Homo sapiens: one gene and its partners. The protein of the gene in region 3 purifies or fractionates together with the protein of the main gene of each other region. This does not show direct contact. Each region holds a gene or a part of one and is shown on either strand. Other genes may lie near its edges.

What was found.
Region 1: the proteins of BCAT1 (region 3) and ZZZ3 purify together in Homo sapiens (affinity purification with mass spectrometry; 2 studies listed by BioGRID and IntAct, with this or other methods). This does not show direct contact.
Region 2: the proteins of BCAT1 (region 3) and YEATS2 purify together in Homo sapiens (affinity purification with mass spectrometry; 3 studies listed by BioGRID and IntAct, with this or other methods). This does not show direct contact.

Annotation. Positions count from the first base shown.
Region 1 is NC_000001.11:77,564,059-77,567,658, reverse strand, and holds part of ZZZ3 (ZZ-type zinc finger-containing protein 3), read left to right. Parts: intron 1-1,477; coding exon 1,478-1,578; intron 1,579-1,874; coding exon 1,875-2,019; 3' UTR 2,020-3,600.
Region 2 is NC_000003.12:183,700,630-183,704,462, forward strand, and holds part of YEATS2 (YEATS domain-containing protein 2), read left to right. Parts: intron 1-3,833. UniProt on the Homo sapiens protein: Chromatin reader component of the ATAC complex, a complex with histone acetyltransferase activity on histones H3 and H4. YEATS2 specifically recognizes and binds histone H3 crotonylated at 'Lys-27' (H3K27cr).
Region 3 is NC_000012.12:24,809,478-24,813,288, forward strand, and holds the end of BCAT1 (branched-chain-amino-acid aminotransferase, cytosolic), read right to left. Parts: 3' UTR 547-3,811; downstream 1-546.

The DNA of each region.
Region 1 (3,600 bases), on a different chromosome or scaffold from region 3:
TTCATTCTCATAAGGAATTTAGAGAAGTTAAACAAAATAGTTGAGCGTGGCTAGAGTACATACTAGAGAGTAGTTAGAGGCTGCTTGCACCGCCTTATAAATTTTGCCAAGGAGCTCACACTATCCTGAGAGGTTGGTGGGGGGAACCATTGAATGATTTTAAGCAGAAAGTAACATGACATTTACGTTTTGGAAAGAATCATTCTAGTTACTTAAACTATTGGGGGTGATGATCTTTAGGAAAGCAGTGGGTTTGGAACTGACCAGCTTTTCCCCTCATCATTTTGGCCATAGTATGGAAACTTAATTAGAGGAAGGCAAGACTAGAGTCAAGGAAACTGGTTAGAGATTCTTTTGATAATTTAGACAAAAGAGGAGGGTGTCCTGAACTTGACTGGTGGCCATGGAAATAAAGATTGGCAAGTTTGAGAAGCCTTTAGGCATTAGAATTGACTTGGTTGGACTGGAGGAAGTAATAATGAGACCATAAACTTGGTGGTGTTGGTGGGTGCACATGAAAGTACTGATGTGTGCTGTGACTGGTAAACCAAATTAAAAACAAAGTTATACCTTTGATCCTCTAGAGTAGCCAGTAACCATACTATATTAAATGATTTTCCCTCTTGATCTTTCAGTGACCCTGTTTCTCCAATAGAGATTTTCCTAACTGGCAGCTCTGGCCTTTCAGAAAAACTTGCTTCACTTCTCCTAATTTTGCTGCAAAACCCAGCCATGGCTTGTTTGCCATTCTGTCAGCCACTATAGTTGACCAGATGATCAAAGAAACTAGAAATGATAGATCCTTTGATTTCCAAAAGTGCACAGAACACACTGAGGACTGTCACAATGCCACCACGCTGAGAAAGAGCTAGATCTGCCTTTTTGACATGATGGGCATTGGTTATTAGGAGTCTTTAGGCTTTGGGAGAGCGATTCAATAAGAGATAAAAGTTTAGACAGAATTTCATTGTTGCCTGGGTTTATGTTAGCCAAGAGAACCTGCTAAAACAATTCTGTATCAATTACCAACAGTGAAGCACTACAGGAGGCAGCTGTGGCATTGCTTCCTTAACCAGTATTTGGATAGTTTTAACTATGGTATTAACTCTCTGTTTCTCAACCATAGTCATCATACAGTGGTCTGAGGTACCTTTCAAGTAGATGATTACAAATAACAAAACACCCAAGTTGGAGATGATTTACTTTTAAAAATTTTTAAATAAATTTAAGCTGATTGAAGATTATCCCTTCCAATGTTCCTCTCACTCACCCATATCTTGATATTGAGTGGATGGAATTTTACCTAGTTTGCTAGAAATTGTCTCTAACACATAACCATTTGTGTGTTATATTACTGTCCTGTGCATGGAGAGAGAAGAGAAGATGTCTGTGTGCACATCATGTGTTTCCTTGTGGAAAATAAAAAAGATCGTGGAACAGTATAACTTAATACATTTTCTCTCTGAATCTGTTATAGTGTGATAACTGTGGCATAGAACCCATCCAGGGTGTTCGGTGGCATTGCCAGGATTGTCCTCCAGAAATGTCTTTGGATTTCTGTGATTCTTGTTCAGACTGGTAAGTGTTTTCTTCATTGTCAGTCTTCAACTTAGACAAGAAAAGAGCTTCTCAGCCATTAGTGAATTTGATTTCCAAACATAGAAAATATTAATACCCACACTTAGTGAATTAAATTTTGTTGTTCTAGGCAATTAATTTTTTTCTGTAATCATACCACATGTCAAGTAACTTTCCGTTGGAGATTTTGATAGATTAATGGATTTAAACAGGGAGAGCTGTGAGGAAGCTTTGTAATACACAGACTAAAATGCATCCACTACCATGTAATGATGTGTGTCTTTTTTTCTTTACAGTCTACATGAAACAGATATTCACAAGGAAGATCACCAATTAGAACCTATTTATAGGTCAGAGACATTCTTAGACAGAGACTACTGTGTGTCTCAGGGCACCAGTTACAATTACCTTGACCCAAACTACTTTCCAGCAAACAGATGACATGGAAGAGAACATCATTTACTAGTCCTCTTCAACACATAGCAATGGTATCATTGTTAATTATGTGCACAGTTTGGAAAGATTCTCTGCTTTCCCAGAAATGACACTCACAGCATGAGAGCTTCCTGAGTGTTCTCGTCAAGTACAGCTCTGCACCGTTGTGGCTCTAGATCACTGTTCAGCAGCTGAACATTCCTGGTGAGCAAAGGTTTCCCTGGTGAATTTTTCACCACTGCGTTTTAGGTGGTGATCTTAAATGGGTGAGATGGAACGAGAGCACACATTAAAGAGAGAGTAAATTCCAAAGGTTTCAAAGAACTTGGTCATAAATATGATAATGAGAAGACAAAGTATTTATATTAAAACAGTTTAGTAGCCTTCAGTTTTGTGAAAATAGTTTTCAGCACAGAAACTGACTTCTTTAGACAAAGTTTTAACCAATGATGGTGTTTGCTTCTAGGATATACACTTTAAAAGAACTCACTGTCCCAGTGGTGGTCATTGATGGCCTTTAGTAAATTGGAGCTGCTTAATCATATTGATATCTAATTTCTTTTAACCACAATGAATTGTCCTTAATTACCAACAGTGAAGCACTACAGGAGGCAACTGTGGCATTGCTTCCTTAACCAGCTCATGGTGTGTGAATGTTATAAAATTGTCACTCAGATATATTTTTTAAATGTAATGTTATATAAGATGATCATGTGATGTGTACAAACTATGGTGAAAAGTGCCAGTGGTAGTAACTGTGTAAAGTTTCTAATTCACAACATTAATTCCTTTAAAATACACAGCCTTCTGCCTCTGTATTTGGAGTTGTCAGTACAACTCATCAAAGAAAACTGCCTAATATAAAAATCATATATATGGTAATAATTTCCCTCTTTTGTAGTCTGCACAAGATCCATAAAAGATTGTATTTTTATTACTATTTAAACAAGTGATTAAATTTAGTCTGCACAGTGAGCAAGGGTTCACATGCATTCTTTTATACTGCTGGATTTTGTTGTGCATCATTTAAAACATTTTGTATGTTTCTTCTTATCTGTGTATACAGTATGTTCTTGAATGATGTTCATTTGTCAGGAGAACTGTGAGAAATAAACTATGTGGATACTGTCTGTTTATATTATAGAATGCTTGTTGTGACTTCCTTTTGGTTAGATTTTGGATTTTTTTTTTTACCAGTGTTAAAACCAGAAATTGGTATTTTTTAAAATGGTTTGCTTCACATATTTAAGAGTTTTCTTTCTGTCATTTATGAAGAATAAGGAATGTATTATGGAAAAGAGGGTGATCTTAAGCAACCCTGTAAAAAATGGTAAAGATTTTTACTCAGTGTGTGCTGAAACACTAAATTAAACTAGCTTACAAAAAGGAAACACGGACCATGGTTAAAGAAAAAGGCAATTATTAATGCTCAGGTGTGAAAACTAAAGTTGAAAATTTTTTTTCTAGTTGTGTCTCATGAAGATAAGCCCCCATGTATTTAAACAGATGGCTTTTGAAAAATCACCTTGTTTCCTGGAAATTACTATTAACTATAGGAAAAGATAGTATAAATATTCTAAGATTGAT
Region 2 (3,833 bases), on a different chromosome or scaffold from region 3:
AGTCTGTTGCCCAGGCCTGTAATCCCAGCTGCTCGGGAGGCTGAGGCAGGGGAATTGCTTGAACCCGGGAGGTGGAGGTTGCAGTGAACGGAGATCGCGCCACTGCACTCCAGCCTGGGCGACAGAGGGAGACTTCGTCTCAAAAAAAAAAAAAAAAAAAAAAGGCAGATACAAAAAGCCACGTGCTGTATGATTCTATTTATACGAAATGTCCAGAAACAGGCAAGTTTATCCACACAAAAAGTAGTTGCCAGGGGGATGAAGGGAGAGGAGAATTGAGAGTGACAATTAAGAGGTAAGTGGTTGCTTTTTGGAGTGATGAAAACATTATGGAATTAGATAGTGGTGATTTTTGTGCAACTTTGTGAATATACTGAAATCCACTGAATTGCACTCTTTTAACTGGTGTGTGTATATATATATGTGTGTGTGTGTGTGTGTGTATATATATATAAATTTTTTTTTTTTTTGAGAAGGAGTCTCGCTCTGTCGCCCAGGCTGGAGTGCAGTGGCGCAATCTCAGCTCTCTGCAAGCTCTGCCTCCCGGGTTCACGCCTTTTCCTGCCTCAGCCTCCTGGGTAGGTGGGACTACAGGCACCCACCACCTCGCCTGGCTAAGTTTTTTTGCTTTGTATTTTTATTAGAGACGGGGTTTCACCATGTTAGCCAGGATGATCTCGATCTCCTGACGTCGTGATCTGCCTGCCTTGGCCTCCCAGTGCTGGGATTACAGGCTTGAGCCACCGCGCCCGGCCGGTCAATATATATATTTTTTGAGACAGGGTCTGTCTCTGTCGCCCAGGCTGGAGTGCAGTGATGCAGCCGTAGGTCATTGCAGCCTTGAACTCCTGGGCTCAAGCGAGCCTCCCACCTCAGCCTACCAAGTAGGTGGGACTACAGGTACACACCACCATGCCCAGCTAATTTTTTTCTTTTTCTTTTTCAGTAGAGACAAGGTCTCCCTATGTTGTCCAGGCCGGTCTTAAACTCCTGGGTTCAAGCAATCCTCCTGCTTTGGCCTCCCAAAGTGCTGGGATTACAGGCACATGAGCCACTGTGCCTGGCCTAAAACAGTACCTTTTAAGTTAAGTGAATTATATTTCAATTAAAAAAGTATATCCACACTCTCAAATAAATTAAAACTTAAAAACAAAATACATAACAATCGCCAGTAGAAGCACTGCAGGTAAAGTTCAAGCCCCTCCCCACTGCATTCTCCTCACCCTCAGCTTTCATTACAACCACTTAACAGGTTCCCCACAGCTCACTCCTCAGACAAGCAGGATAAACAGCCCTTGCCTAGAACTAGTTCTACTTCTCCATGTCTGCAGTCATCAAAGTTCACATGCCTGAACATCTCACAGTTACTTTCCAATGGGCTCATATTTCACCTCTACCTTCTCCGCTTACCGAAATGCTCTTCATCCTTCAAGAATCAAATTCCGACTCATCCATGAAGTGAACTCCAGCCTTCGAAAGCTTTTTTTCCCCCTAACTACTACAGAACAGATGATATGGAAACAATCTGCATCAGGCCAGCCGCGGTGGCTCATACCTGTAGTCCCAGCACTTTGGGAGGCCAAGGCGGGTGGATCATTTGAGGTCAAGCGTTCGAGACCAGCCTGGCCAACATGGAGAAACCCTGTCTCTACTAAAAATACAAAAATGAGCCGGGTGTGGTGGTGCGTGCCTGTAACCCCAGCTACTTGGGAGGCTGTGGCTGGAGAATCACTTGAACACGGGAGGCAGAGGTTGCAGTGAGCCAAGATCGTGCCATTGCACTCCAGCCTGGGCGACATAGTGAGACACTGTCTCAAAAAATTAAAAAAATTACCTTAAAAATCTCAAACCCCTTAAACATCCCACATGCCTCATTCTTCCAGAAAAAGAAAGTTGAACCGGTGGGGTAAAGGAATGGTAAAAGTGGCCGGGTGCTGTAGCTCACGCCTATAATCTCAGCACTTTGGGAGGCTGAGGCGGGTGGATCACCTGAGGTCAGGAGTTCGAGACCAGACTGACCAATATGGTGAAACCCCGTCTCTACTAAAAATACAAAAAAATTAGACGTGGTGGTGTGCGCCTGTAGTCACAGCTACTCGGAGGCTGAGACAGGAGAATTTCTTGAACCCGGGAGGCGGAGGTTGCAGTGAGCCAAGATTGCGCCACTGCACTCCATCCTGGGCGACAGCAAGACTCTCTCTCTCAAAAAAAAAAAAGGGAATGGTAAAAGTTACCTAAAGTCAGCTTTCCAGGTGCATTAATGGAGAGAAGCAGTGGCATGGATAATTTAGAGGAGCTGTTTTATCCTACAGTCTTCTGTGTGCTAGTTTGCAAGGTTGTAGACAGCGTACTGGCCAGAATGGATTCTGGGGGCTGACCATATTAGCAAATTGTGTAGTCTTAAAGCCGTTTTATTTATAGGAAAGTTGGTGTTTTTGACCTGGAAATATATAAGACTGAAATAATGAGACAGTGTTTTTGAGCTCAGCTGTCTTTTGCTCAGCTCTTTACATGTTATTAGAAATGTCCCACATCACGTCAGTCCTAATGACCAGATCGCTCAGCTTCTCGCCATTCAGGTCCAGTATAAAATTTTGATTATTTTTACTTAAAAGATCTGTTTTTGTTTTGGATGCCAGATGAGTTAAAGAAAAAGTGATATGTTAGCCAGCAAATGGGAACATATTCAAAAGGTTTTGTGTGTCAGACCTGACTTAGAATAATTAGCATAGCATTTTTTTGTCGGTACTAACTCTGGTGAAAATCATAACAGAATCTTCTGTCTCCTAGAGTTCCCTTGGTCTGAGTCTGTCCTTTAATAGAGGTTGGTGCAAAAGTAGTTGTGGTTTTTACTTTTGCACCAACCTAATAGATAACTTCTCGTTCCTTCTGTTACAAAATGAGCATAACTTTGGAAAGACGATCAGGTGTATTTTGTTTTTTCAGTTCTTTGTATCAAAGGGAGGTGACAGTGTTAAGAGTAATGTTTAAATAGGTGGAGAAATTTTAATTGACATTGAAATATAGATTTTGATTTTTTTGATAGGGCTTCTGCATGCCTAATGATTTTCTCAGTATAATATTAAAATGGATATATATTCTTAGAGTGTACATTGAACAGTCTTTGGGAAGAGTGGATGGTGTTGGGGTGAAGCTGCTGCCGTATTTAGTTTTCAAAATAGAATTCAGGAAATGGATCATATGTATTTGGATTACTGAAAGTCAGTTTCATTAAAATGTTCCTAAAGGGGCCAGGCGTAGTGGCTCACGCTTGTAATCCCAGCACTTTGGGAGGCTGAGGCAGGCGGATCACCTGAGGTCAGGAGTTCAACCCTCCCTCTACTAAAAAAATAAAATAAAATAAAATAAAAAATAGCCAGATGTGGTGGTGGGTGCCTGCAGTCCCAGCTACTTAGGAGGCTGAGGCAGGAGAATCACTCCAACCTGGGAGGCAGAGGTTGCAGTGAGCCGATATTGCGCCACTGCAATCCAGCTTGGGCAACAGAGTGAGACTCCATCTCAAAAAAAAAAAAAAAGCTTCCTAAAGCTTCAACAGTAGACTTGTGTAGTACAAATCCCCTTCGTTCTAGATCTCCCCACTTTGGTTTTAGGATTTAGCCTTTGTTCGTTCTGCTTGTTTCTTTTTCTGTTGCTGGCAATAAAACTTTCCAGTTATGATGCATTATGCTTTTAATACCCTGCTGGATTGGATTTGTATGTGTATTTGCAGTGAAAGCTTGTTTGCCATTTTCCTCTGATGGTGACTTTTGACCACATTTCCATAGGTTTGGAGATACTGTGTTCTCGTTAGTTTTTAAATAGTCTGTTACTTT
Region 3 (3,811 bases):
TCATTCTTTTTCCTGGCTGAATAGTACTCCATTGTGTACATGTACCACATTTTCTTCATCCATTCATCTATTGATGGACACTTAGGTTGCTTCCAAATCATAGCTATTGTAAACAGTGCTGTAACAAAAATAGAATTGCAGATATCTTTTTGATGTAATGAGTTCCTTTCTTTTGGATGTATACCTAGCAGTGGGATTGCTGGATCATATCATACCTCAATGTTTAGTTTTCTGAGGAACCTCCAAACTGTTCTCCATAGTGGTTGTATGAATTTACATTCCCAACAACAGTGTAAGAGGGTTCCCTTTTCTCTGCACCCTTACCAGCATTTGTTATTACCTGCATTTTGGATATAGGCCATTTTAACTGGGGTGAAGTGATATCTCATTGCAGGTTTGATTGCACATATCTAATGACCAATGATGTTGAGCAACTTTTGGTCATGTAACTATCTTTAAAACAAATGCAGCTTGATCCCTTTTTAATGTAATCAGTTCAGCTTCAAAAACTGGTATATTGCATTTGGGATACAAACAGTCAACATGAATCTTCCAACTCAATTTATTTGTTTCAGCTCACGAACTTTTCAGAATCCCTAGTGGCTTAGTGACAAAGACCTTTGGAGAGAATGATCATGGGTTTTGATCAACACTGTCGCGATTGCATACAGACATAGCTAGAGAACAAGCCCAGTGATTATTCTACAGACCATAGGAAGCATCTACACCTCAGCTGTCGGCCGTTTGGTTACAGAAATGCGATCCTGCAAGTTGTCACCACTATACATAAAGTCAGGCTATGATAGCATATTTCACTTAAAAATAAATTATCACAATATAAGGCACATATGTATATGGAATCAGATTCATGATTTGAAAAATATGCTTAAATCACACTGAATCAGCTTAGCAGAAAAATAATTATAAAATTTGAAATATCCCCTTTTCTTTTTGTTTTGTACTAAATCAATGTAGAAAACACACTTTCTACCCTGAAGGAAACTGCTGTCTTATCTGATAAATTATATAAGCTCCAGTAAATGTATGTCATCACCCTCAGGAATGACAGGTCTCTCTTTCTCACGCTTGTGGGAATTGAGCGTTGACACTGTAAGAACACTTGACTAATAACCTTTGCCTAGACCTTCCAAACTCTGCGCGTAACTTCTTGAGAGATCTGAATAAAGGCCAATATTTTCACAGGTTGACAGGGTCTGGAGAAGTGGGTCACCGAGCACTCTGACATTTTTAAGTTCAGTTTACAGTAACTCTTTGCAAAACTTCAGGTTTTGCTGTACTTCAAATCATTTGGGCAAATTATAAGAAAATGAATACAAAATGTGTGACCCTTGGGTAATTCTGCACTTGGCTTTGTTCTCCCTTGGTGCTTTTGAGGACAATTTCTGCAAGGCCTGGTTTGGCTAAAAGGGACACTTCATTGAAGATCTCTAGGCCTTTTACTTTTTAAAGTGTCTTTTATTCTAAAGCTAGTTAACCACATATAGAAGTATGGTGTTTATCAGTGATGTAGATCCATTATGACAATGAATGGGAAGAGGTAATCTACTCCCCCCATTCTGTGCAAATCTCAAACGACAAAGCTAAGTTTTACTACAGATAAATCCATAACCAGGGGAAGGAAGAATTTTTAAATGCCCATTTTTTTCTTGTCCAAATGTTTGAAAAAGAAACATATTGAATCTCTATCCAGTGGTGTGGTTTCTGGTCTTTCTGGTGTGCTCAATTCTCTCTGTGTCATTTTGGTGTAAAAATACTATCCTACATTTACTTCCCTTGACCAGAAACCTTGAGACATCATAAAAATGTTAATTTAGCATTATTACTTCATGCATTCAACAATGCTGATTTCATGAAACCACACAAACAGGATTCTTTTGTTTTATTGATAACAGAAACTGTGCATAATTACAGATTTGATGAGGAATCTGCAAATAATAAAGAATGTGTCTATTGCCAGCAAAATACAATTATTCCATGCCCTCTCAACATACAAATATAGAGTTCTTCACACCAGATGGCTCTGGTGTAACAAAGCCATTTTAGATGTTTAATTGTGCTTCTACAAAACCTTCAGAGCATGAGGTAGTTTCCTTTACCTACGATATTTTCCACATTTCCATTATTACACTTTTAGTGAGCTAAAATCCTTTTAACATAGCCTGCGGATGATCTTTCACAAAAGCCAAGCCTCATTTACAAAGGGTTTATTTCTTTCTACTCAATTTTTCTTAAAAAGAATTTCAAGAATCACTACACAGCTAAGATATCTGAGACTTGCAATGGCTGGAGTCTATCAGTACAATAGTAATTGCAATCAGATTCAGATACAAGAGAACAGGTTCTAACAATTTCATAATTAAGTTGATATTCTGTTTCTATCTATAAGCTCACATTTAAAAACTACTTCCTCGAACTACTTATTTTTCCTCAGCCACAAGTAAGCGCAAATCCTTAAAAACAGTGGGTTGAGCCCCAGCTCCATGTATTAGGTAGCTAGGTATATTGTGGGATTATTCCTTGTTAAGTCACCCCAGGAAACATTTGCAGAATTTAGAAATGCATCCAGATTTGTGAGTTTATTTTTAAGACCTGACTAAAAATCTGCACTCTTCAAAAACTTATTGATGAAGTACAAATTGAGGCAGAAATTTACATTCCTTTCTTAACCCTGAGAATGAGTTTAATGATCATAGGAAACTAGTTTGAGGAAACTGCAATGTGTTATTGCACATTTTAGTTAAAAACTAATAGTCAACCAATTTCCAATTCAGTAAACCTTCCACCTATCAGGATAGGAGATAGTAAATAGTATCTCTAAGGGAAAAAAGTCACAATCTACTTCTTGTCTAAACTTATTATTTTATTTGGCCTCAAGAAGCTTCATGGATCTTAGAATAAAATGGTTGAAGAAATGACACAATAGATATTACTTACTATGCTATTATAAAATAAAGCCTAGTCCAAGTTGATAATAATCTAAAGTGGTTTCTATGTAACACAACCTTCAGATTATAACCTCAATAGTGTGACCTAATTCTAATATCTGATGAAGTGTTTGCTATATTTAGTCACTACCTAGTAGCATTATTTGTATTTAGCAACTACATTGAAAGCTGAAGAAGATCTCAATGCTTGACAGAATAAGGAAAAAGCTCCTTTGGATAACACAAAAATATGTTTTGTTTTTTTCCCCTCCTCTATCATTCCTTTCTTCTCTACCTCCACTTATTCTTCCTCTGATATCATCTTTCATTAAATTTTTCTCCAGAATCCAATAGTGAGCAACAGGAAACCTAGCCATTGTGATAGTGGATATGTAGAGAAAAGCCAGTGAAACTATATTTTAATTCATTCTTACACCACAGCCTACATCAATTCTTACCATCCCAACAGTAGATTACATAAACTGAACATCATGCAACTCAAGTTATACGTCTTGTTGATTGGGTCTATTGTAGAATGAAAAATACACTTTCAGACAGAATAAGATGACTTAAAACTTCAATACTTGTATCCAGCAGATTTGAAAGGGCACTTCAAATTTGTTCTTCTTTTTCTCCCCCATCACCCCCATTTCAATTTTTAAGACTGATTTCATGCCTTTATCATTTTGAAGCAAATATGTTTATATATGTCTGACCCCAGGAAATTATTTACCCACAAACACTACTATAACTACTATACTCTGTTGATATGTTTCATTATCAACCTCCCCAAATTAAACATCTGACAAGTCTTTTATATATGTATGCTGAAGAGAAAAAATAAATCACTTTCTTCCACCTTTGAA